Linked DNA regions of Homo sapiens: region 1 is linked to region 2. The links come from fine-mapping of genetic effects on gene expression. A gene starts in region 2. The other region holds a variant in brackets. All regions are shown on one strand. Distances are from middle to middle. Region 1 has its middle 6.5 kb from the start of EIF4A2. Region 2 holds the start of RFC4 (replication factor C subunit 4).

Region 1 (4,396 bases), 29 kb before region 2:
AGCCACCGTATCTGGCCTGTTTTTTAAATCAGTAGACTAACAACTACAATTAGGTGGGAAAACAAAACATTCTAATGGATTAACTTCATTCTAACTAGATTATCTGGCTAGGAATATATTTTTATTTTGGTAAAATAGGAATAACATAAAAAGTACCATTTTAACCATTTTTAAGCGTATACTTCAGTAGCATTGTGCATATTCATGATGTGATACAACCATGACGGCTATTCATCTGCAAACCTTTTTCCCCAAATTGGAACTCTGTTCACATTAAACAGTAACTCCTCATTCTCCCCTCCCCCAGGCCCTGATAACCCTCCTACTTTCTGTTTCTATGCTCATATAAGTGGACTCATATACTACGTGTCCTTCTGTGTCTGGTTTATTTCACTTAGCATAATGTCTTCAAAGGTGCATTCGTACTGTAGCATGGATCGGAATTTCATTCCTTTTTAAGGCTGAATAATATTCCATTGATGTATAAAGCACAATTTGATTTTTTGTGTTGTTTGTTTTTTGGAGACAGGGTCTTGTTCTGTTGCCCCCGGGCTGGAGTGCAGTGGCGTGATCATGGCTTACTGCTGCCTTCATCTCCCAGGCTCAAGCAAGCCTCCTGCCTCAGCCTTCCCCGAGTAGCTGGGACCACAAGCACATGCCACCACACCTGGCTAATTACTTGATTTTTTTGTAGAGATGGGGTCTCCCTATATTGCCCAGGCTGGTCTCAAACTTCTGAACTCAACTGATCTTCATGTCTCAGCCTCCCAGAGTGCTGGAATTACAGGCGTGAACCACCACGCCCAGCCACACTTGTTTTATCTACTGATCCGTCAATGGATGCTTGGGTTGCTGTCACCTTTTGGCTATTGTGAATAATGCTGCTATGAACACTGGTGTACAAATAATCTGTTTGCATCCCTGCTATCAATTATTTTAGGTATATACTCAGAAGTGGAATTGGTGGATCATATGATAATTCTTTAATTTTTGGAGTAACTGCCATACTGTTCACAGTGGCTACACCATTTTACATTTCTACTAGCAATGTACAAGGATTTTGGTTTTCCACATCCACACCAACAATTGTTATTTTCTATTTTTTTAAAAAATTAATAGTCATTTTGGTCAGCCGTGCTGGCTCACACCTGTAATCCCAGCACTTTGGGAGGCGGAGGCAGGAGGATTGCTTAAGCCTAGGAGTTCACGACCAGCCTAAGCAACAATTGAGACTCGCCTCCCAAGCCTTCCCACCCCGTTCTCTATTTAAAATAATAATAGTCATCTTAATGGGTGTGAAGTGGTATCTCACTGCGGTTTTGATTTGCATTCCTCTAGTGATTAGGGATGCTGAGCATTTTTCACATGCTCATTAGATCTTACTTCAATCTCTGGCTCTGGCTGGCTTTCTCTGATGCCGCTCTGGCCGGGGAAGGACAGCACAGCCTTCCTACTGCCAGCAGGAGGTAGAAGTCCAGATTTCTCACACACACCAGAGGGGATGATCCTTGTTACTGCTGGGTGGGGGCTGGAGTTCCTCATGTGGTCTCCACCGACACTACAATGAGGTGGCCTCATGACGACTGTGCGATCAAGTCCTGATTTCCCAGCGGGCCTTGTATAACACCACCTTAGTGGGATCTGAAGGATCACCTTTCTTCCTGCCCAGTGGGCCTGGAAGTTGAAGCTGCTCCGTGGTCTCCTCTGACAATGTGGTGGTGGTAGTGGCGGGGGTCTGGGGGTGGAGGTTGTCAGAGAACCTCATTACAGCCTCCCAAGGGTAGAATCGTGGGCTCCCCAGTTGGCTTTTGCTGGCATGGGTGTGGGTAGGACCACAGCTGCTTCTGTGGTATTTGGCTGAAATAATGGAATTACTGTCTACAACTTTTCTATCTTCCTAGAATGCCTCTGTCCTGGGTAGAGAAAGCAGCCTTTTGCTGGAGCTTTTCTAGTCTATGCCGGTTGGCTTTTCTGGGTTGCTAGCTTCTTCAGTTTTGTTTTGTTTTGTTTTTTTTTTTTTTTTTTTTTGAGGTGGAGTCTCGCTCTGTCGCCCAGGCTGGAGTGCAGTGGCACGATCTCAGCTCACTGCAAGCTCCGCCTCCAGGGTTCACGCCATTCTCCTGCCTCAGACTCCCAAGTAACTGGGACTACAGGTGCCCGCCACCACGCCCGGCTAATTTTTTGTATTTTTAGTAGAGACAGGGGTTTCACCATGTTAGCCAGGATGGGCTTGATCTCCTGACCTCGTGATCCGCCCGCCTCGGCCTCCCGAAGTGCTGGGATTACAGGCGTGAGCCACCGCGTCCGGCCGCTTCTTCAGTTTCAACTCAGGATGTGTGAAGGAGGAAGAAAACCC[A/G]GGGAATTCACTATCATGTGTATCTTGAGGTTCCTACCTGTCTGCCTTCTTTTCCCCACCTCCCAGAGTCTTCTTGTGTTTGCTTTATATATAATGTCCAGGGTTTTCAGTTGCACTTAGTAGGAGGAACAGGAAAAATTTTGCCTACTCCATCTCTCCAGAAGTAGAAGTAGACCTCACTGTTTGTAATGACTAATACACACGGCATACAATTTACTAACCAATCTTCTTTTGACAGCCATTGAAGTCGTTTATAGTTTTATTATTTTAATAGTTTTTTTTCCTATTAAAATAATGAAGGGCCGGGTGCGGTGGCTCAGCCTGTAATCCCGGCACTTTGCGGAGCCGAGACGGGTGGATCACCTGAAGTCAGGAATTCAAGACCGGCCTGGCCAACATGGCAAAACCCTGTCTCTTCTAAAATACAAAAATTAGCTGGGTGTGGTGGCATGCACCTGTAATCCCAGCTACTCAGGAGACTGAAACAGGAGAACCACTTGAATCTGGAAGGTGGAGGTTGCAGTGAGCCAAATCGCACCATTTGCACTCCACCCTGGGCAACAGAGAGAGATTCTGTCTCAAAAAACAAAAACAAACAAACAAAAAAAGAAAAAAAAAAAGAAAAAATAGAGGAAAAAATTTTTACCTAAAGTATGATTTCCATTATGTTTAAAAACAAACAGACATTCTTGGGGTTGGTGATTGTTTTCTGTCATTTCCAAAAAACGATATAACTATTATTTTTAATGAACTATATAGGAATATATGTATATATATAGTTTATATATACATATATAGTTTATACATATATAGTTTATATATACGTATATATAGTTTATATATACGTATATATAGTTTATATATGTATATATAGTTTATATATACGTATATATAAATATATAGTTTATATATATGTATATATAAACTTTATCTCATTTATATGATAAAGATGAAAGATGAGGCCGGGCAACGTTATAAGAATTAAAAGAGATAAATTCCTGGCCAGGCATGGTGGCTCACACCTGTAATCCCAGCACTTTGGGAGGCAGAGGCGGGCGGATCACCTGAGGTTGGGAGTTCGAGACCAGTCTGACCAACATGGAGAAACCCCGTCTGTACTAAAAATACAAAATTAGCCGGGCGTGGTGGTGGATGCCTGTAATCCCACTACTCGGGAGGCTGAGGCAGGAGAATCGCTTGAACCCGGGAGGCAGAGACTGCAGTGAGCCGAGATTGCACCACTGCACTCCAGCTTGGGCAACGAGAGCGAAACTCTGTCTCAAAAAGAAAACAAACAAACATGAAAGATGAGTTGGTTGTGTCACATGAAGAGGGTAGTATAGAGCCCCAGGTAATGGGGCACAGGAGTGGGATTCCAGATACCAGGCCCACATTTCTGGGGTGAGATTGCCAATCATGGTCTTTCTTCCATCCTTCACAGAGGTGTAGGTTTGTCCTGAAGACAAACCTGATCCTGGAGACTTCATGTAATCTCGAAGAGATGTGCAAACTGATGAAAAACAGTGATTTTTTTTTTTTGAGACAGTCTTGCTCTGTCACCCAGGCTGGAGTGTGGTGGCGCAATCTTGGCTCATTGCAACCTCCACCTCCTGAGTTCAAGCAATTCTCCTGCCTCAACCTTCCGAGTACCTGGGATTACAGGCGCCCACCACCATGCCTGGCTAATTTTTTGTATTTTTAGTAGAGAAAGGGTTTCACCACGTTGGCCAGGCTGGTGTCAAACTCCCGACCTCAGGTGATCCACTGGCCTTGGCCTTCCAAAGTGCTGGGGTTACAGCTGTGGGTCACCATGCCTGGCCAAAATAGTGAATCTTTGAGGTAAAATAAAGATGTCGCCCAGGCTGGAGTGCCATGATCATGCCAGTGCACCCTCTGCCTCCCAGATTCAAGTGATTCTCCTGCTTTCCTGCCTCAGCCTCCCCTGTAGCTGGGACCACAGGTGTGCGCCACCATGCCCAGCTAATTTTTGTATTTTTGATAGAGATGGGGTTTCACCGTGTTGGCCTGGCTTGTCTCAAA
Region 2 (4,396 bases):
GTGGATCACTTGAGGTCAGGAGTTTGCGATCGACCTGACCAACATGGTGAAACCCCGTCTCTACTAAAAATACAAAAAATTAGCCAGGTGTGGTGGTGGGCACCTGTAATCCCTACTATTTGGGAGGCTGAGGCAGGATAATCACCTGAACCCAGGAGGTGGAGGTTGCAGTGAGTCGAGACCATGCCACTGCACGCCAGCCTGGGCAACAGAGTGAGACTCCGTCTCAAAAATAGTAATAATAATAATAATACTTTCCACCTATTGTAATGAGAAGAAGGAGGAACAGATTACATATTTGGATTTAAGTAGAACTCCTGACCTAGTATTTATAGCCAGTTTACAGAAACTTTTGTTTTCTTCACTTCTGTATCCCAGCCCCTAAAATGGAAGCCTCTGCTTGTAGAGATCTCAGTTTATCTACAAAATAAGGGAGTTAAACTAGATTATTCTCAGGTAACTTTAGTTCCAGGGTTCTATGACTTATATAAGTGGGTGATTTTTTTTCAAAGACAACTTCTAAACAGAACAAAGCATTCCTCCATAAGTTAAAAAAAAAAAAAAGTGATCAGTACTGGTTAGAGAGATAATTTATGAATTATTTTAACAAAGACACAAGTGTTCTTACTATTTTTCCACCCAGGGAACGGGTTTGGCTTTCTTGTTCTCTCCGCTACTTCCCGCACTGGCAGCTACTCCTCGATCCTTGGTCAGCGGGGGTTTAGTACTGATGGATGTACCTTTAAGAAATGCTTGCATGGTACTTCACCCTGGTCAGGTGCAAGACAGAAAAAAAAAGCTTTTATTGAAACTTTTATTGCGAATCAGCACCATAGGAAAGCGGGGGTGGTGGTGGGGAACCATTATGAGAAAGTACAGCCCGAAAATAAACTTAGCCTTGTGCAAAGATGTTACATAATAAAGGACATCACCCCATGACCTAGGACACTCTGAATGCACTGTACTGAGGGCTACAAGAACAGAAAAGTGGTCAAAGTCCCTAACGAACTTAGAATCTATTTCTAGTGCAGGAGTTATAGAACAAAGATCATATGTCACAAAAATGTTTAATGAGTTCCAAATGCATTGATAAATATGATGTTGCTAATGACCAAACCACATGGGCCTCCATGGTTTCTTTCACAGTCATGGGCCTAGCTCTAGCTCAGACCCTGAAATGGACTCTTCGGCAATTAAAGGTGCTCTGCTTGCACCACAAATGAGAACCTTCACTCCTTTCCTTGGGTCAGAACTCAAAGACCTTTTTTTGTTGTTGTTGTTTTTGAGACAGGGTCTCACTCTTTTGCCTAGGATGGAGTGCAGTGGCGGAATCATGGTTCACTGCAGCCTTGACATCCCAGGCTCCTGTCATCTTCCCACTTCAGCCTCCCCAGTAGCTAGGACTACAGGTGCGTGCCACCACCCCCGGCTAATTTTTTAAATTTTTGGTAGAGACAGGGTTTCACCATGTTGCCTAGGCTGGTCTGGAACTCCTGGGCTCAAGTAATCCTCCTGCCCCGGCCTCCCAAAGTGCTGGGATTACAGGTGTGAGCCATCTCGCCTGGCCAGGGACCTATTTTCATGGCAGAGTCAATGCTTACCTACCTTCAGAGACTTTCTGTGGGGAAGGGAAGGTGGGGGACTCTGTTGTTAAAATAGAAACAGCTGTTTTTCTCATAACACACTCACTTGAAGAAATCAAAACAATGCATAAAAGCATGAGAGATTTAAAAAAGTAATACAAAATCCCACCCAGAAGGTAACTATTTCTAACATGCAGGTAAACATTCTTCCAGGCTGTTTTCAGGGATAAAAAGCATCATTAGCTCGCCTGAAAAGTCCCCGGTTAATTCTATTTTTTTCACTGCTACATGCCCTGGTGCCTAGAACAGTGCCTGGTACATGGTAGATGCTCCGTAATATTTGGTGAATGAATTACCATCTATGATACCCGGTTTCCTTTTCTGTTAAAGGAGCTAAGGCCTATTCCACAGGACAACTGAGTTAAATAAAAGAATGTATGCAAATACATAGTTCCTTGCTTGGCATATGGGGATATGCTCAATAAAATAAATTTTTAATATCTGTTAGCAGCCAAGGTTTTTATAACGTTACTGGATTAGTCCATCCCTGCCTCGGGCTGTTAAACATTAATACAGCCCAAAGCCGGGGCCTGCAAGATGCTGTCCGGAACCACCATTTCACCAAAGGGCGCGGCCAGGGCATGAAAGGGCCACTAGGCTGGGGCCCCGAAGGAGGTGGAAGACCTCACAAGGGGCATCAAGGGCAGGAGTGGGGAAGGCGAAGCGGGCTTGCAGTTCCTCCAGCAGGTTACCAGTTAGCCTGGCTTCTCGTGCAGGTCACCGCCGCCGGCTCGTTCCTCAGGTTTCCGCGATACAAAAAGGACGAGATGGTCTCGAAGTCTTAGCTCCGTCACCTAATCTGAGAATAACGGGCCCAGGAGACTTACGATCACTGATGTCCCCACAGTCGCCTCAGTTCCCGCCACGGAACGGCGGGCGAAAAGCAGGGCGGGAATACGCCGGTAGGAATACGCGGGCACGTAACGCGTCACTTCCGGTGCTGGGGCGCGCTGCTTGCGGAGGGAGTTTGCCCGTATACGGTTTTATTTAGGCAGGTGATGAGCCAGCCGGACTTTCAGGCAGAACTGGACTGGAACAGGCATGGCCTAGGAGGTGTCCCTGTCCCGGTGCATTGCTCCCACTTCAGACGTGAGCGCGACCCTCCCGGAAGGAGTAGAGGTCGCGCGGGCACGGCGCTGGGGCTGCTTACCTGGCAGGCTCAGCAATGAGGGCGGGGCGGCGGCGCGCGGGCCTCTGGAACCCTGCCGGTCCACCGAAGGTCCCGAGCCCGCTATCTTCGTAGGTGCGGGCCTCCGGAGGTGCAGGTCCCTGTCCTCCTTGTCCTGCTTCGTCGCAGAGCAGAACGCGTGTGCTTTAAGGGCAGAGACATCTGAAGATGCTTTGCCTTGCCCTCTTGAGGACACGTGGCTTTTACTTCTAATAGTGTCTGCGTGTTGTGGAGAGAGAAGACCATGCAGCTGTGGACATCTATTATAATTCCTGAGCCCCACTTAGAAATCTGGAAGTGAAGGCGTTCAATAAAAGTTAAAGGACTGATAATCATGTTTAGCCCCACCAAGCTTCATGCACAGTGGGCTAGGCTGGTGCCTGAGCCCACTGCTTTTATCTCTTCCAAGTACTTGGTTTAGCTCTGAAATGCTCCTTAATCCTATTGAAACCTGACCCTTCTCAAAGGCCACCTTCTCTACTGGTCTTTACTAATTACTAACCCATAAGGTTGTTCCGGGTCTTCTTCAAATGACTGTTTTGTTTGGCACAAACTCAGCATGATATCCATTGTTAACTTTGTACGTTTTTTTCATTTATCTTGCAACAAATGCTTACAGAATGTCCACGCACTGTGTTAGATGCCTGCAGATACAGCAGGGAAAACGCTCGAGATGCCCTCAAGTAGCTTTACAGACTAGGAGAGTGACAGACAATGTGATGTGTGGTTATGCAGAGGAAGTAGGGGGCTGTGAGAACTTACATCCCAGGCCTAACCCAATCAAGGGTTTAACCAAAGTAAGGATGCTTTATGCTACTTTGTAATTTCCACAGAGTCTGATACAATCTCTGGACAGTATAAAAAACACACAGGTTATCTATCTGGTCACCGGTTTACATTACCATAACTTATCAAACTGTATACTTAATGCTTGTATATTTTATTGTATGTAAATTATACCACAATACAGTTGATAAAACAAGATCTATGAAAATAGATGGTATCCATTTGCTACCTGAAGGAACAGCACAACCACAGAGAGGGGGATGTTATGATCTCATTTAACAGACAAGTTGGGCTGGGCACGGTGGCTCATGCCTGTAATCACAGCACTTTGGGAGGCCGAGGTGGGCGGATCACCTGAGGTCGGGAGTTCAAGACCAGCCTGGCCAACATGGTTAAACTCCATCTCTACAAAAATACAAAAATTAGCCAGGTATGATGGCAGGTGCCTGTAATCCCACCTACTTGGGAGGCTGAGGCAGGAGAATCGCTTGAACACGGTAGGTGGAGGTTGCAGTGAGCTGAGATCACGCCATTGCATTCCAGCCTGGTGACAGAGCGAGACTCCGTCTCAAAAACAAACAAACAAAAAAACAGACAAGCTGATGGATAAGTGGTCTTTGTCCATTTTGGCTGCTATGTTTATAAGCCATAGATTGGGTGGCTTATAAACATCATAAATTTATTTCTCACAGTTTTAGTGGCTGGGAAGTCCAAGATCAAGGCACCATAAGATTCAGTGGCTGGTGAGGGTTCACTCCCTCATTGACAGCTGTCTTACTGCTGTAACCTCACTTGGTGG

Evidence for each region. PIP is the estimated chance that this variant, and not a neighbour inherited with it, causes the effect.
Region 1: its variant is the best candidate, but not a certain one, in a credible set for the expression of RFC4 in spinal cord (GTEx, PIP 0.56).

Annotation. Positions count from the first base shown.
Region 1 is chr3:186,774,841-186,779,236 of GRCh38, forward strand. No RefSeq gene overlaps it. Among named protein-coding and RNA genes, the nearest start is that of EIF4A2, 6.5 kb to the right of the region's middle. RefSeq lists an enhancer at 979-1,813 and a silencer at 2,553-2,754. The variant A/G (reference allele first, on the strand shown) is at 2,357.
Region 2 is chr3:186,803,955-186,808,350 of GRCh38, forward strand. RFC4 (replication factor C subunit 4) reads right to left here and starts at 2,528. Exons shown (of 11, transcript NM_002916.5): 1 at 2,336-2,528; 2 at 629-770. The coding sequence starts at 759. RefSeq lists enhancers at 2,084-2,695, 2,696-3,307.